Homo sapiens: one gene and its partner. The protein of the gene in region 1 purifies or fractionates together with the protein of each later gene. This does not show direct contact. Each region holds a gene or a part of one and is shown on either strand. Other genes may lie near its edges.

Region 1 (7,018 bases):
TACTGGGACTTCCTTATGTTTTTATCAGAGTTTCACTGCTCAACAGCCAAATTTCTTTTGATAGTATAACTTCCAAATGGCCTCCCGAAGAGCTGAGGGGCTATTCTGTTAGACAGATAAGTGTATACTGAGAAATTGCAGGCTTAATATGCCTTATAACATTCCAGGCATCATTGCCAATCCATGGAGTCCTTCTGACCTACAAACCTCCAATTCCATAATAACTTTGGGGCCTTTAGAGTCTTCTAGAGGCAAGGCCAGGCATGGTGGCTCACACTTGTAATCCTAGCACTTTGGGAGGCTGAGGCGGGTGGATTGCTTAAGGTCAGGAGTTTAGAAACCAGCCTAGCCAACATGGTGAAACCCCTTCTGTACTAAAAATACAAAAATTAGCTGAGCGTGGTGGTGCATGCCTGTAATCCCAGCTACTCAGGAGGCTGAGACGCAAGAATTGCTTGAACCCAGGAGGCAGAGGTTGCAATGAGCCGACATCATACCACTGAACTCCAGCTTGGGCGACAGAGTGAGACTCTTATCTTAAAAAAAAAAAAATGCTCTAGAGGCAAAAAATCTAAAAGAGGGCAGGCTAGATGCTTTCTCCATCTTAAATTACCTCTGGAAGTACATGAGATCCTTATGTGAATTCACTAATTCTGCTTTCTTGTGTTTTTTGTCTGTTTGTTTGTTTTGAGACAGAGTTTCTCTCTTGTTGCCCAGGCTGGAGTGCAATGGCGTGATTTCGGCTCACCCACAACCTTCGCCTCCCCAGTTCAAACGATTCTCCTGCCTCAGCCTCCAGAGTAGCTGGGATTACAGGCATGCGTCACCACACCCAGCTAATTTTTTATTTTTAGTAGAGACAGGGTTTCTCCACGTTGGTCAGGCTGGTCTCAAACTCCAGACCTCAGGGGATCCACCCACCTCGGCCTCCCAAAGTGCTGGGATTACAGGCGTGAGCCACCGCACCCGGCCTTTCTTGTGTTATGATCAATGTTCTTACCTGCTTGGTTCAAGTCTAACAAAACAAGAATCTTAGTGGCACCTCCTGCCTAGAGTATTTGGAATCCTTTGGAAATCCTGAAGCCAACTTTTCCACTCAGTATCCTCAAAATTAGACTGAGGCCCAGACTACAGGCCCTTGGGTTAAGTCAGGGTGTAGAGAAAAAAGGCTCTGCACCTGTCTGGAGGTGAAGGATAATTTGCCTGACTAAGGAGTGCCTGGATGGAGTACCAGACTATGAGGGTTCCTAATGATTTGGCTTTTTCCTGCTACAAGTTCACTGAAAGTGGCCAGACATTTGAGTGTGCCCTAGGGCATGCGGGTTTGATGTACCACTATTTATTTCAGGTCTTGGGCCTGTGGGCCTTTGCTAATTTTTCTGGCTCCCACAATACCACTTCACAGCAAGCCCCCTTAATCTCTCCAATAAAGTGGAGTGTCCGTATTGTCAGTCATCCCCTATTCATCAGTCTTTAGACTATCCCTTCTTTTTCTCCTTTTCCAGAGCAAAATAACCTATTAGCATTGGCATTCTGCCGAACACTGATTGCCCAAATGCCGAACAGTGCTTTCTTGGAGGTTCCCATCCCCAAAGCTCTAGCCTGGCATTGTGTTGAGTGCTAAAAGTACACCCTGTATAAGGCTGGGAACTTCGAAGCTGTCAGGGGTTCACTGGGGAATTCAGAGACGCAATCCTCGGTCCTCAAGAGAAGCTATTTTTGGTGGCCACTTAGGTTTGGGAACAGAGATGCTGAAATGTGCCTTTTAGGACTCCATGGGTCACATTTCTTAACTGTTAATGCACAATTGGGGCTGCACTGTATTCATCAAAGGATTTTCAAACATCGGCTAAATGTTACAATTTGATACCCTCTTTTTTGTCAGATGATTAAACTGATCCTGAAGAGAAGAGTCCTCTTGGAAATAAAATTCATATGTAGTTACTGCAGCCACAGAATGAAGATTGAAATCTGAATCCACCTTTTCTTGACATAATGCCATTGCTTTGTGAAGAATCTTAATTTGTGTTATACAATTTTAGAATTAGATTTAATTCAACACTAGCTTTATGCATTATTAGTTTAGATTGATTCCTCTCTGCATGTCAAGTATGATTGAAATTTACTGACAGGAATTTTCCCCAAGCAGATTTCTGTTGTTTGACTCAACTATACCAGAGTAAGTCAGATAAACATACTAAAGAAAAAAACTAAAGACTTTACATTTTTAACTTTTCCACTTAGAAGTAGTCTGCTGTTAACTCAGCCTCTAATGCTCTTTACGCATCCCCATGCCATTTTTGCTTTTGGCAATTTTTTTTTTTTTTTTAGGAGACAGCGTTTCCATCTGTAGCCCAGGCTGGAGTACAATGGCACAATCATAGCTCATTGTAACCTCAAACTCCTGGGCTTACAAAATCCTCCCACCTCAGCCCCCTCATGTAGCTAGGACTACAGGTATACACCAACATGCCAGCCTAAATTTTAAATTTTTTGTAGAGACAAGGTCTTGCTATGTTGCCCAGGATAGACTCAAACTCCTGGCCTCGAGGGATCCTCCTGCCTTGGTCCCCCAAAGCACTGAGATTATAGGCATAAACCACAGTGCCTGGCCCTGCTTTTGGCAATTTTTCATAACCTGGTTCAAATTTCATCTCCTTTGAAAAACAATTATTAATTTTGGAATCCCTCCCCATTTCCCAAACTCCAACCCAAATCTGCATTGCCACAACATATCCCCTTGTCTTAGCTCCAAATTCCATGATGCTTTATAGTTTGTTATTTACGTGTTTGCAATCCCTAAGTTGTAAGCCCTTCGACAACAGGGGCCTTGACTTTTCCTTTCCCCTAGTGCGTCAAGTTGTGAACAAAATTTATTTTTAAAAAATATACAAATATACAATAATCTACTGTTTTTAGGTCAGGAGAGACAAAAAATACTAACCAATAAATACAACAGCATCAAACTGGTATAATGACGCACTGCAGAATCTTTAGACTCCTACCCACTTGAAAATAGGTATGCATATCTGTAGACAACCTAGCATTTACCTTGCAAGGGAAGAGAATCTATTAAGACAATTCAGGAATAAATCAAAAGTTAGAAATGTGAGATTCCTTCTTCACCTCTCCCTCTCCCTCACATTTTACATCCAGTCAATCAACACTTGTCCATTTTACCTACTAAATATCTCTGTAACCCAGTAGTAGTGATTCTCAAACCTCAGCAAGCCTAAGAATCACCTGGAAGACTTGTTAAACAGACTGCTGAACTCCATCCCCGGAGTTTTTGATTCACTAGGTCTGGGATGGGGTCAAGAATTTGCATTTCTAACAAGTACCCAGGTGATATGGATAATGCCTATCTAGGGGCCATACTTTGAGAACCACTGCTTTATCCAATCCCTTATTTCATTTTCCATGCTTTGAGAGGCCTCACAATTTCTACTGAAGGAAAAGGGCCCCTGAATTGTGACATAGTAAAATGACTCAAATGAGGCATAAGAATAGCTAGATTTGGTCCTGATTTTGAATGGTTTTTCTTGGTGGGCAGTGGTTGTCTGAGGCTTTGAACTGATCTTTAACACACAGGAATGAGTTCTAGGCACTTCTGGAGTGGTCCAGAGCACCTCTAAATACGAAGCAGCAGATGAGGTCATGGTAATTCGGGGAGTCAGAAGTGGAAGGGTGGGGGGTTGAAAGCTATAATCACTGTCAAAGGGGTGTTTTCTGTAGACAAGTGAATGGAGCTATTGTACACAAACTCAGTGGTTGCCAAGCATGTGGCCCAATTATTTTGCCTTCATGAGCATGGCACGGAAGGATCTCTTTAGAGAACTTGATTCACACAAGTTTGTGTTTAGTCTAACGGTAGCAGGCAAAAGCCTGGGGAATTTGAACCTAAGAGTCTTTACAAGTTCCTGCCTCCCAAATCTAGGATATGATACTAGAAAGTTGGTAAGACCACAAAAGTAAAACACAATCTTTAGAAATAATACAACAATTACAACTGTTGAAAGACCAATATAGGGGCCTATCTTGGTCAAAATGTTGACAACAATAATGAAGATCACATGTTGACCTTGGGAGGCAAAAGGTCCATAATTTAAATTTCTCTGAGACAGTTTTAGCCTGATGGAGAAACTGGAGGTTGGGAGTATGTGAACTTAGACCCTCTGTTCCCCCTGGTTTATCTTTGGCTCTACCTGTATTTACAGTGCTTGTAAAAGTCAAGACTTTTTTTTTTTTTTTTGGGACAGAGTCTTGCTCTGCCACCCAGGCTGGAGTGCAATGGTGCTATCTCGGCTCACTGCAAGCTCCACCTCCCGGGTTCAAGCAATTCTCCTGCCTCAGCCTCCCGAGCAGCTGGGATTACAGGCATGTAACAGCACACACCTGGCTAATTTTTGTATTTTTAGTAGAGACGGGGGTTTTACCATGTTGACCAGGCTGGTCTCAAACTCCTGATCTCAAGTGATCCTCCCACCTCAGCCTACCAAATTGCCAGGATTACAGGCATGAGCCACCATGTCTAGCCAAAAGTCCAAAGAGTTTTATTGGTCACCAGGGTCTAGGGTCTTAAAAAGGAATGGAAGACCTGCTTCATTTGCTAGGATAGACATATGAATTGGCGATTTGCTGTCTTAGGGGAAACACCATTCTCCCTGCAACATGGGAATGGAGATGCTTTAGTACCCTTCAAATTTCCCAGCTGCATAAGAAAACCACTGAGGTGGTTGGCCTAAGCCCCAAAAAGTCAAGACCAGAAAACAGGGGCAACAACCATCACCTGGCCTCCAGGAAAGCAGCACTGTCCTTCCTGGGCACTACAGAAGTGAGAAACAGAAGCTATAAGGTTGCTGCCAATCCTCCATGATATTCACTTCTTTAGTACAAGCCTTAACTAGACACATTTGAGAGACGAGCAACTCGCAGAGTCAGACAGGATGTTATAGATGAGGCTATCAAAGGTGAATTCAACTTAAAATAGATATAACTAGAAACAGGATGGGAAGCATGGTCCACTTCCTCTTGGAGCAAGAGGTGAGAAAATGAGGCTGTGAGGAGGTCTGTCTCCTCTTTTATGGGGTACTAAGGGGAAAAGTGTGAAGGAAACTTCTGTAGCTATGGTGATCCCTACATCCAAAATCCTAATTCTGGCAGAACTCTAACACTCCATGAAGTACTGCATCACACAGTATTCATTTGATCTAAGCCCTCTAAACTTGCAGAGATGGAGGCAGGGGGACCTGAAAGTTTTGAAATCCTAAGAGACAAACCAAAAAGTCATAGGAGCTATACCAACTGGCACTCCACTAATTCAACAAAGGATAATTGCAGAAATTGACTTCATAAATACCTCAAAGACCTCATAAATACCACACTAACATACTGTACTTCTCACCCGGGAGAGGGGTCACACAGCAAAACGGTTTGTAATGGAATGGATTAAAACTATAAAGAGTTATACAGGTGTTAGAACTGTTTATTGTTTTCAGGAATAAGAAAATTTGAAGTGAAGTTAACATAGCAATCATGTAGCACAAACAAATTAGAACAAATATTTATTGAATTAAAACTATGTAAGGCATCGAACTAGATGTGATAATTCTTAGGGTTTATGATTTATAGCTTTCTCTTAATCTATTATAAACTCTAGAGTGCCTGGCAAGCACAGGGCTCAATACATTTGTTCTCTCCCTCCCTCTCTCACCCTAGCTACCACAGCTACTAAGTGGTTGAGCCACAATCAAATCCAAATATTGGTTATACTATGGAAATGCCCCTGCACACACATTCTATTTATGGTAGTATCTTATTTAACTGCACAATTTAACCTGGCTGCTTAATCCATTATTTTAATATGTCTCTCAGTAAAATCAAATTCATTTCTAGAGTAGCTCACCTTTCAGTAATCACAAAAAACTGATTAACATTTCTGACTTGAAAATAGGTATTTTTTCAACACATATTTCTATTAGAAATGTTGCAATATATATTCTCATAATTTATAAACTATTATAAGCTGAAAGATAGTTCAAAATCTATTCCTGGCCGGGTGCAGTGGCTCATGCCTGTAATCCCAGCACTTTGGGAGGCGAGGCGGGTGGATCACGAGGTCAAGAGATAGAGACCATCCTGGCCAACATGGTGAAACCTCGTCTCTACTAAAAATACAAAAATTGGCCAGGCATGGTGGTGGGTGCCTGTAATACCAGCTACTCGGGAGGTTGAGGCAGGAGAATCGCTTGAACCCAGGAGGCAGAGGTTGCAGTGAGCTTAGATTGCGCCATTGCACTTCAGCCTGGGCAACAGAGCGAGACTCCACCTCAAAAATAATAATAATAATAATAAAATAATCTATTCCTTATAAGCAGGGCATGGTGGTGCACTTCTGTAGTCCCAACTACTTGGGAGGCTGAGGCGAGAGAATCACTTCAGCCCAGGAATTCAAGTCCAGCCTAGGCAACATAGCAAGATCCCGTTTCTTAAAAACATAAAAATTCCTTAGGATATTACATGCCTAAGCACGTAAATGACTCCTTCAGTATACTGAGTTCAAAGATATTAGTTATCTTTTCATTTTTTAATTTTCCCTATTTTCTCCAAATAACAAAGTAAGCTGATAAATGTGGTAAATATATATATATATATATATATATATATATTATATATATATATATATATGTATCTCCATAAATGAAACAGATGAATGAAAAACAGATGAGTAGACCAGATCTGCATTTACGAGGAAATGACCTTCAAAACTGGCAGGGAGCTGTTAACAATGTTCTTCACAGGGGAGCAATTATACTACAACCCTCCTATGTATACTTTCATTTCTCATGGTCTACAAATACATTTGCATATCAGAAAGAGTGAAAGAATAGTCTGGTAACTGTGGCAACCTTCATTGAAAAGATATAAGGCATTTTCATTACCTTAATAATTACATCCTAAATGCCAGATCGGAATAAATGCTGCATTATGAAAGGATAGACAAATACTTTGACAGAAT
Region 2 (7,601 bases), on another chromosome or scaffold:
GTACTATTTCCAAAGATGCTTTGCTTTCTATTCACTGTTACCGTAGCATTAACAAAAATGATGTGGTGTAAGGGCAATGGCCTTCAGTCCAAAGACCTCATCACTACCCTGCATTACGAGGCTGAGCCCTATTGCAGTTGTTTTGAAACTCGAAGGATTAGTTAGATACAATGTTGCCTGAGTCCTCTAACAGCTCTAAAATTCCTGGATTATGTAAAATGTTTAGCAACTTTCCTGTAATAAAGTAAAAAGAAGGTTGAAACAAGACTATGAGTCAGTAGGATTATGAATGCAAAATAAATCAATTTTTCCAATTGATCAGTTAATTATAATTCTAAAAGCTATTCCAGAAATAGCTGATTCCACTTTGGTTCAAATTTTCCTTTTTTACTAGTTAACATGGAGCATCTTCATAAATGCCCCCACATGTTTCTATATATTTAGGAAATAGAATGATTTCCTAAGATTGGATGCTAGGGTCCTATTCAAACTCAACATCCAATTTGAGGAGTAACTCATTTGCAGTCAAAACCGTGTACAAAGGACATTCAGGGCTGGGGACCTTTTCTTTAAAGAAAAAAAAGTTTTATGAAACTTTATGATGTGCCAGGAACATCTATGTAATCACAGAGGCCCTGGTTACTAAGAACATGTTGTTCAGTGACTGTAATGGGTTGGATTGTGGGTTAACAGCCACGTACTTAAAAGCTAACAGGAATAAAAGAATATGTAAAGGAGTTACATGGGAATAAAAGGCTATTCCACAATACAGTTCTCTGAATCACAATATTGCCTGCTACTGTGAGTTCTGCAGAGCTCCGAATTAAATGGGCTTGTAATGTATCTCCCTGGTTTTGAACACTCAGTGGTTTAGGTTTCCCCTAAACTGATAAGCCTCCAAAAGGCCACAGTCTCAGTCTTGGATTGTAAAGCACAAGGACAAAAACAATCCCACTCCCCTACTTCCTAGCTGTGTGGCCTTGGGAAAGTTACTTGGTTTCTCTAAGCCTTCATTTCCTAATTTTTAAAATGGGGTTGCTGTGAGAATTAAATGAGATGATACATGTAACATGCGCAGCGCCCAGCACATCTAAAGCTCTCAAAACCGGTTGGCTATCGTTACCATTAAAGCAGCAAGTATCAGTTGCCTAACTCCATTTCAGTACTTCAGCAAGTACTGCCATTATTACAATATTTTAACAGCAGGGCATGGTTAGCACAATGCAGTCCCATAAAGCAGCCCAGCCTCCGAGGTTTGTATTCAGAGGTTACTGTGTTCCTTTCCAGGACCACCCCAGGGGGAGCTCCTGGTGCACAACCAATGCTTCCTGCCTCATTACACTTGGCTCCATCTCCTCCTGCAAAAGCCTGGGGCGAGGAAGAGCCCAGTCTCTTAGACCCGCACTTCTGAGCGTTAACCATCTGGGACTCGGAAAGGAAAAGAAAGCTTTCTTCTCAGGACAGTTCTGCGCCGGTGGTAGCCAAGGGCTGGAGCCCCTGATGCGAAGAAAAGGGAAGGAGAGAGGCGGGGTGCGAAAGAAACGCCACCGCTCGGCGCCCTCCCTCGGTGCCCGCGGCGCAGGGGCCACCCGCCAGCGTACGGGGGACGAAGATGTGGCCGCGGGCGCGGGCGGGAGGGGAGGCGATCCGGGGAAGGAAGCGGCCTGTTCGCCAGCCCCGGGGCCCGGGGAGCCCTCCAGCAGCGCTTGCGGCCCTGAGGACACCGCTTTGGGAGAAATGACGACTCCCTTGCTCACCCTACTGCGACACCCCGTCCCCCTCCGCACTCTAGCAGATGCGGGCCGGGAGTAGCTGAGCTGGCCAACCGCCTGGGACCAGGATGCGGCAGCGCCCACCCGCGCGGCGTGGAGGGGGCCGGGGGCGGCGCTCGGCGCAGATGGCGCTCGCTGCGAGATGGATGCTCCAGGGCGGGTAATCACTCCTGGCTCAACACAGCATCCCGGGCGGAGCGGATGCCAGATCCCACCGCTAAGAGCCTGGGCTGGGAAAGCAATCTTTCCAGGCAGCCCCCAGCCCGGTGCGCCGGCCCCGACAAGTCCCAGCCCTCGGAGGCAGGGCGGGGCGCAGGGACTCCCGGGACCCGCACCTGTAAGGCCGACAAAGCCCCCGCAAGCGCCCCACCCCTCTGTCCTCCGTGTCTCTCTCGTTCCGCCTCGATTCCCCGAGCCCTCTCCAGGCAGCGACTGGAGAAGCGAAGTCGGCCTCGCCCCCGAACTCCGTGGTCAGCACAGGTGTACGCACTTCCGAACAAAGCCCACGCCCAGACGTGTCCGCAGGGGCCCGAACAGGCACACGCCCGTGCGCTCCCGGCCCGGCCCCCGCGCTCCTCGCCCCGCCGGCACTGTGGCGTGACGCCCCGCGCCTCCGTGTCCAAGCCCGGGAAGCCGCCGTGCCGGGCCCGCAGGCTCTCCATGCCCAACTGCCCACGAGCAAGAGCTCTGGGCAGGGCTTCCCGGAAAGCGTGGGGTGCGGGCGCGGAGCAGAAGTTGGCCACAGGCTGGAGGGGGTGGTGGGTGCCGGCGCTGCTGGATTTCAGCTGTGCCTTCACCCAAGCGCAGGTCCCCCTGCTCCCTCTCGGCGCCCGCGGGAGTGTCGGGGGCCTGCAGGGGAGAAGGGAGTTGGAGATCTGCTTTGCCCCTCCTGCAGCGCTGCCAGCCCGGTGAGCGCTCGGCTGAACCCCGCGGCGGTGTCCAAGTGACAACGCAGCAGCCTCGCGCGTCCTCCTCCGCTCCAGCCGTCACCCCCGAGCAGGACCCAGTGTCACCGCCAGACGCGCAAGGAGCTACTTACGTTCTCGCGCCGCGCCCTCCGCTCAGCTCTGGCGCGACTGCCCAGGACCCTGGACCGCCGGTGTCCTCCGTTCTCGACGAAGCTATCCCCTCTGGCTGCTCCAGCCAGGCGGCCCCTGCGCCGTCCCCCGCGCCCGCGCGTCTGAGGCTCGGACTGCGGCGCGCGTCCGCCAGCGACCCTGGCGAAGCGAGGCTGGCCCCGCGCCGGCGCGCGCCCCCGCCGCTCCCGCCCTCTCCGCTCCCCCTCCCCGCGCCGTGCTTTTGCCCCTCCCGGCTCTCCTTAGCGTCCTCCCGTCCCCCTCCCCCGCACTCCCTGCGGGCGTCCTCCGCCTCCTCCCCTCCTGGCCAACCCCCTCTTGCCCTGCTGCTGCGACGGCAGCGAATGGGCTCCAGCCGCCGGCGCCTCGAGGGACTGGGTGGCCCCTCACCTGAGCGGCCGCCCCACCGCCAACCTCCGTCAGCCTGCGAGCGCGTGTGGCGGCGGGGGTGGGGGTGCGGGGACGGAGGGCGGGAGTGTTCCGGGGCTAGGATGGCTGGGATTTAGCTACAAAAGATGTTCCAGAAAATGGGTAGTTTTTGAATGCCACTCTCATGGGTTTAGCTTTCTGTGGGAGGTCTGTGGTCTTCTAGTTTTTTCTTTTTTAAAAAGCACTTTCTTCGAAATTCATCAGTTGGGGTGGTTGAGATTGGGTGAGTGGTTTTGGGGGTTTTGTTTTGTTTTTGCAACCGTTCTTTCCAAACACTCCCCGCCGCCCCCCACCACCGCAGAAAAAAGAGCTTTTAGCATAAGGCGGATGCTATCTATCCGCGGTAGAAACTGGGTCTTCTGGTCCCAAGGAATAGGGTTAGTTCGGATTTGCTTATTTACAAATGGGGGAGTATTATGGAGATTTTTTTTTTTTTTTTTTGGCAATGTAAATCGAGAATTAAGATTTTCCAACTGTATAGTATTTGAGTAAACACACTGCTTGCTGCATAGTTCAGGCTCCGAAGCGCACGTCTCCACTCTATCGTGGATGGTGTTCAGGATCCTTAGCCTGACCCTTGGGTCCTCCGTAATCTACTCCGGTCTGCACACAAATTACTTGTCTGCTGGGTATCACCCGACTTGACCACTTACAGCAGGCTCCAGCGCTTAGTGAGCTCAGCGGAGCCTTGATTCCTTCAGTTCTCTAATTCAGGAAAACATTTTCTGAGCTCCTCACCACCCCACCCCACCTCACCACCTCCTCCACCCCCAGCCTCCAAGGTGCTGGGGCAAGATTCAGGAATGAAAAAGAAACAGGTTCATCCTTCAAGGTCTTGACTACCCCAGTGGTCTGTTCTAACTTCAATTTGAACTTGCCCCGTCAGCTCACAGCATCTGCATGCAAGTGAGCAGCCTTCTTTTCCTTCTCCTTCTACTGCCATCCTCTCCTCCTTCTCCAGCCAAATGTGCTCTGGCCTCACAGAGCCTCCCTCGGTTCCTGAACCAGCATGATATCTGGCTGCTGGGTCATTGCACAAGTTGTTTCCACAGTCCCATCAGTGGTTCTTCTGACTCTAGTCCTTACCCAACTGCCATTCAGGTGGTACCTTGCACCTCTCAACTAATTGTCCAAATTTTCCTCTAAAATACCTTCCCCCCCGCAAAAAAAAAGATTCCATGATCCCCCTACTTGAAAGTCTGGGCTGGTGGGCTGGTTCTCTATTGCCTACAAAGTAAATTCCACATCTCCTGGTGTGCCTCTTTACAATCTGCTCCTAACTTATCTCTCCATTTTCCATAACTCTAAGCCTCTGCATGTGAGGTTCCTCCTAGCTAGAATATTGGTCCATCTCTTTTTCATTTGGCAAACTCTTGTTCATCCTTCAGAGCCTTACTTGGTTGTTACCTCCTCTGTAAGGACTATTATAATAGTGCTGGTCACCTTTTAATGATCTGTTTGCATGTCTGACTCCATAAAATTTCACTTCTTTGAGGACAATTTGTCTTATTTATTTTTGTGTAACCACATTTCTCATCAATACAAATGAAGCCACAGATAACCATAATCAACTCTCACTGCCCCATCATTTTGCCCTGTGTAAAGGACTTGAGGCCCCTCCGTTCCTTCCCCACTGCAGTAATTGCTGAGAATCCTGGGGTTGTCTTGCCTGTCCTTCCCATGTCCTTCTACTTCGTACTCTGGTTTTCCAAGATTGCCCCTCACCCCGGCCACTGAGAAACATTGATTTCTGGTCCACATTATTTTCCAGTGAATGCCACAGGGCAAACCTGTCAAGTGGGAAAATGACACCCTACTCTCTTCAGTTCTTGCCCTGGTTCTGTGTAGTAATTTATCCCCCGGGCACTGAAGCAACATTGCTTGTGTCTTCCTGTGTTACAATCTCATAAAGACCCTCTTTAAACAGCTCCTTGAACTTCTGCTTAGAATTGTTCTTTCTCTTCAGGCTCCAGTCCTGGTCTATGAAGCCAGGTTGAGGCAGACGATATTTGGTCCTGGTGAAGTCCAGGTTAGTCCTGATGCCTGGGAGACTACTTAGGCTATTGGGGGTTGCTGAAAGAATAAGGACATGAATAGAATCTCTCTCTTTTTTTTTTATGTGAGTGATGATTTCTCAGGTATAGTTTCCCTTACCTTTACAGGTAGAGTAACAATACTTAATACATAAGGTTATTGTAAGAAAGCACTGGACAGTATCTAGGACATAATAGGTGCTCAGCAAATTCTAGTTTAAGCAGTAATTATTTGATAAGATGTCTGTAATGTAAATACATGCTTGAATAAAAAGTACAAAGCCAGAAGAGAAAAAGCTCTGGAGAAGATAGGAACCACAGTGATAGTACAAAACAAAAACTAAAATTAAGTAATTTGGGGCTGGGTACGGTGGCTCATGCCTGTAATCTCAGCACTTTGGGAGGCTGAGGTGGGTGGATCACCTGAGGTCAGAGTTCGAGACCAGCCTGGCCAACATGGTGAAACCCTGTCTCTACTAAAAATACAAGAGTTAGCCACACGTGGTGGTGTGTGCCTGTAATCCCAGCTACTGGGGAGGCTGAGGCAGGAGAATCACTTGAACCCAGGAGGCAGAGGTTGCAGTGAACCGAGATCACACCACTACACTTCAGCCTGGGCGGCAGAGTGAGACTCCGTCTCAAAAAACAGAAAGTAATTTTGATACTACATAATAATTGTAATAATATAAAATTATTATATAGTTCTGATTTCCAGCTTATTACTTCAACTGCACTGCAGCTCTACATTGCTGGGGATTCATCTCCTGAGGGAATGAGCAACAGGAAGAACAAACTGAGGCTTCAAGAGGAGCTGAAATGAAGGGAGTATGGGAGGTGGGGATAGAAAAATGTTCTACAATTAGAAAGATGGCGGTGTGGGCAAATAGACTTTCTAATGCAGTCTGTTTGATCTGCTTGGTGATGCATGAGGCAGTCTGATTTGGCTGCACTTTGCTGGTGATACCCACAACTTGCCTCCTTACCCTAACTGCTGCTATCCCTTTCCCATCCCTAAGCCTTATCCTCTCCCTATTACCAAGCCTCACTCCATCTTCAAACCCAGCTGAGGACTGGGAATAAGGTCTGTGTCCTCATCATGTGATAATAATAGAATCATTATTATTATTTTCATTTATTAACTCATTTATTCTGACAAAAATTCCATTCAGTAGGCACTATTATCATTCCCCTTTTAGAAAATAAGGCAAAAAAAAGTTAAGTAACTTGCAGAGGTCACACAGTTTATCTGCAGAGATGGGATTCAAGCCCCGCATTATAACTCCAAAGTTAAGTCTTAACCAGTCATTGTGCCATGCTGTCTATCAATGACAACACACCAAAAGTTTCATTGTTTTCATAGACACATCAGAATGTCACTGTGTTAAAACAGCTACATCAGAAAGTCATGGAGCCCCCCAGTGGTACCTGCAGTGAATATGTTTTAGCCTTTCTCTTTTCCTCTACTTCTGCAGTCCTGTCTCTTTTTCTCAGAGTTCTCCCTCCCCTCTTTTCCTCTTCCACTTTTTTTTTTTTTAACGCCTTGCCTTATTTTCCATCTCAATTTTCTTAATCCACATCCATGCTGCAGGCCTCCCAGGGGAGGCAGTACCATTGGTCCTGTCCTCAAATCTAATGTTAAATTCAGCAAAACCTAACATGGACCCAGCAATGCTAGTAATGAGCCTGTTGCCTTGCTATAAAATGAAAGAATTGGACTAAGTGAGCACAGAAATTCTTTTTCAGCTGTGTCATTTTTTTTGATTCTGGTGGTAACCAAGAGCATTTTTTTCGGCTCCTCTAGTAAAACACAGATAAAACCTGGCTGAATTCTGGTAAGAATGACTGAAGCACTAAAAAAAAAAAAAAAGAAAGAAAAGAAAAAAAAAGTTCCTGTCATAATATAACAGGTTTTTTGCTAGAAGAATGGCTTATACCAGTGTCATCATTATCTTAATATAATAGGTTAGGCTGGGCAACGTGCATTAGATTTCTGACAGGCATGTGAGAAATGTAGGTATTTTTGTTTGTTTGTTTTTTGAGACAGCGTCCCACTCTGTCCCCCAGGCTTAAGTGCAGTGGCGTGATCTCGGCTCACTGCAACCTCCGCCTTCTGGGTTTAAGTGATCCTCCTGTCTCAGCTTCCCGAGTAGCTGCAAATGTAGTAATTTTTAAAGCCTTTCTGTTTGAAAGGGTATTATAACCCAATATTGTCCAAAAGCATAGTTGTTATAATGGGAGGCTTTCTAAACTGGTTCCCAGTGACATTCTCCTCCTGGTATTCTTCCTTATGT

Evidence for each region. The genes of interacting proteins can lie anywhere in the genome.
Region 2: the proteins of FRMD5 (region 1) and NRCAM purify together in Homo sapiens (affinity purification with mass spectrometry; 2 studies listed by BioGRID and IntAct, with this or other methods). This does not show direct contact.

What each region holds. Positions count from the first base shown.
Region 1 is NC_000015.10:44,185,255-44,192,272, forward strand, and holds part of FRMD5 (FERM domain-containing protein 5), read right to left. Parts: intron 1-7,018. UniProt on the Homo sapiens protein: May be involved in regulation of cell migration. May regulate cell-matrix interactions via its interaction with ITGB5 and modifying ITGB5 cytoplasmic tail interactions such as with FERMT2 and TLN1.
Region 2 is NC_000007.14:108,453,432-108,461,032, forward strand, and holds the start of NRCAM (neuronal cell adhesion molecule isoform A precursor), read right to left. Parts: upstream 3,006-7,601; 5' UTR 2,812-3,005; intron 1-2,811. UniProt on the Homo sapiens protein: Cell adhesion protein that is required for normal responses to cell-cell contacts in brain and in the peripheral nervous system. Plays a role in neurite outgrowth in response to contactin binding.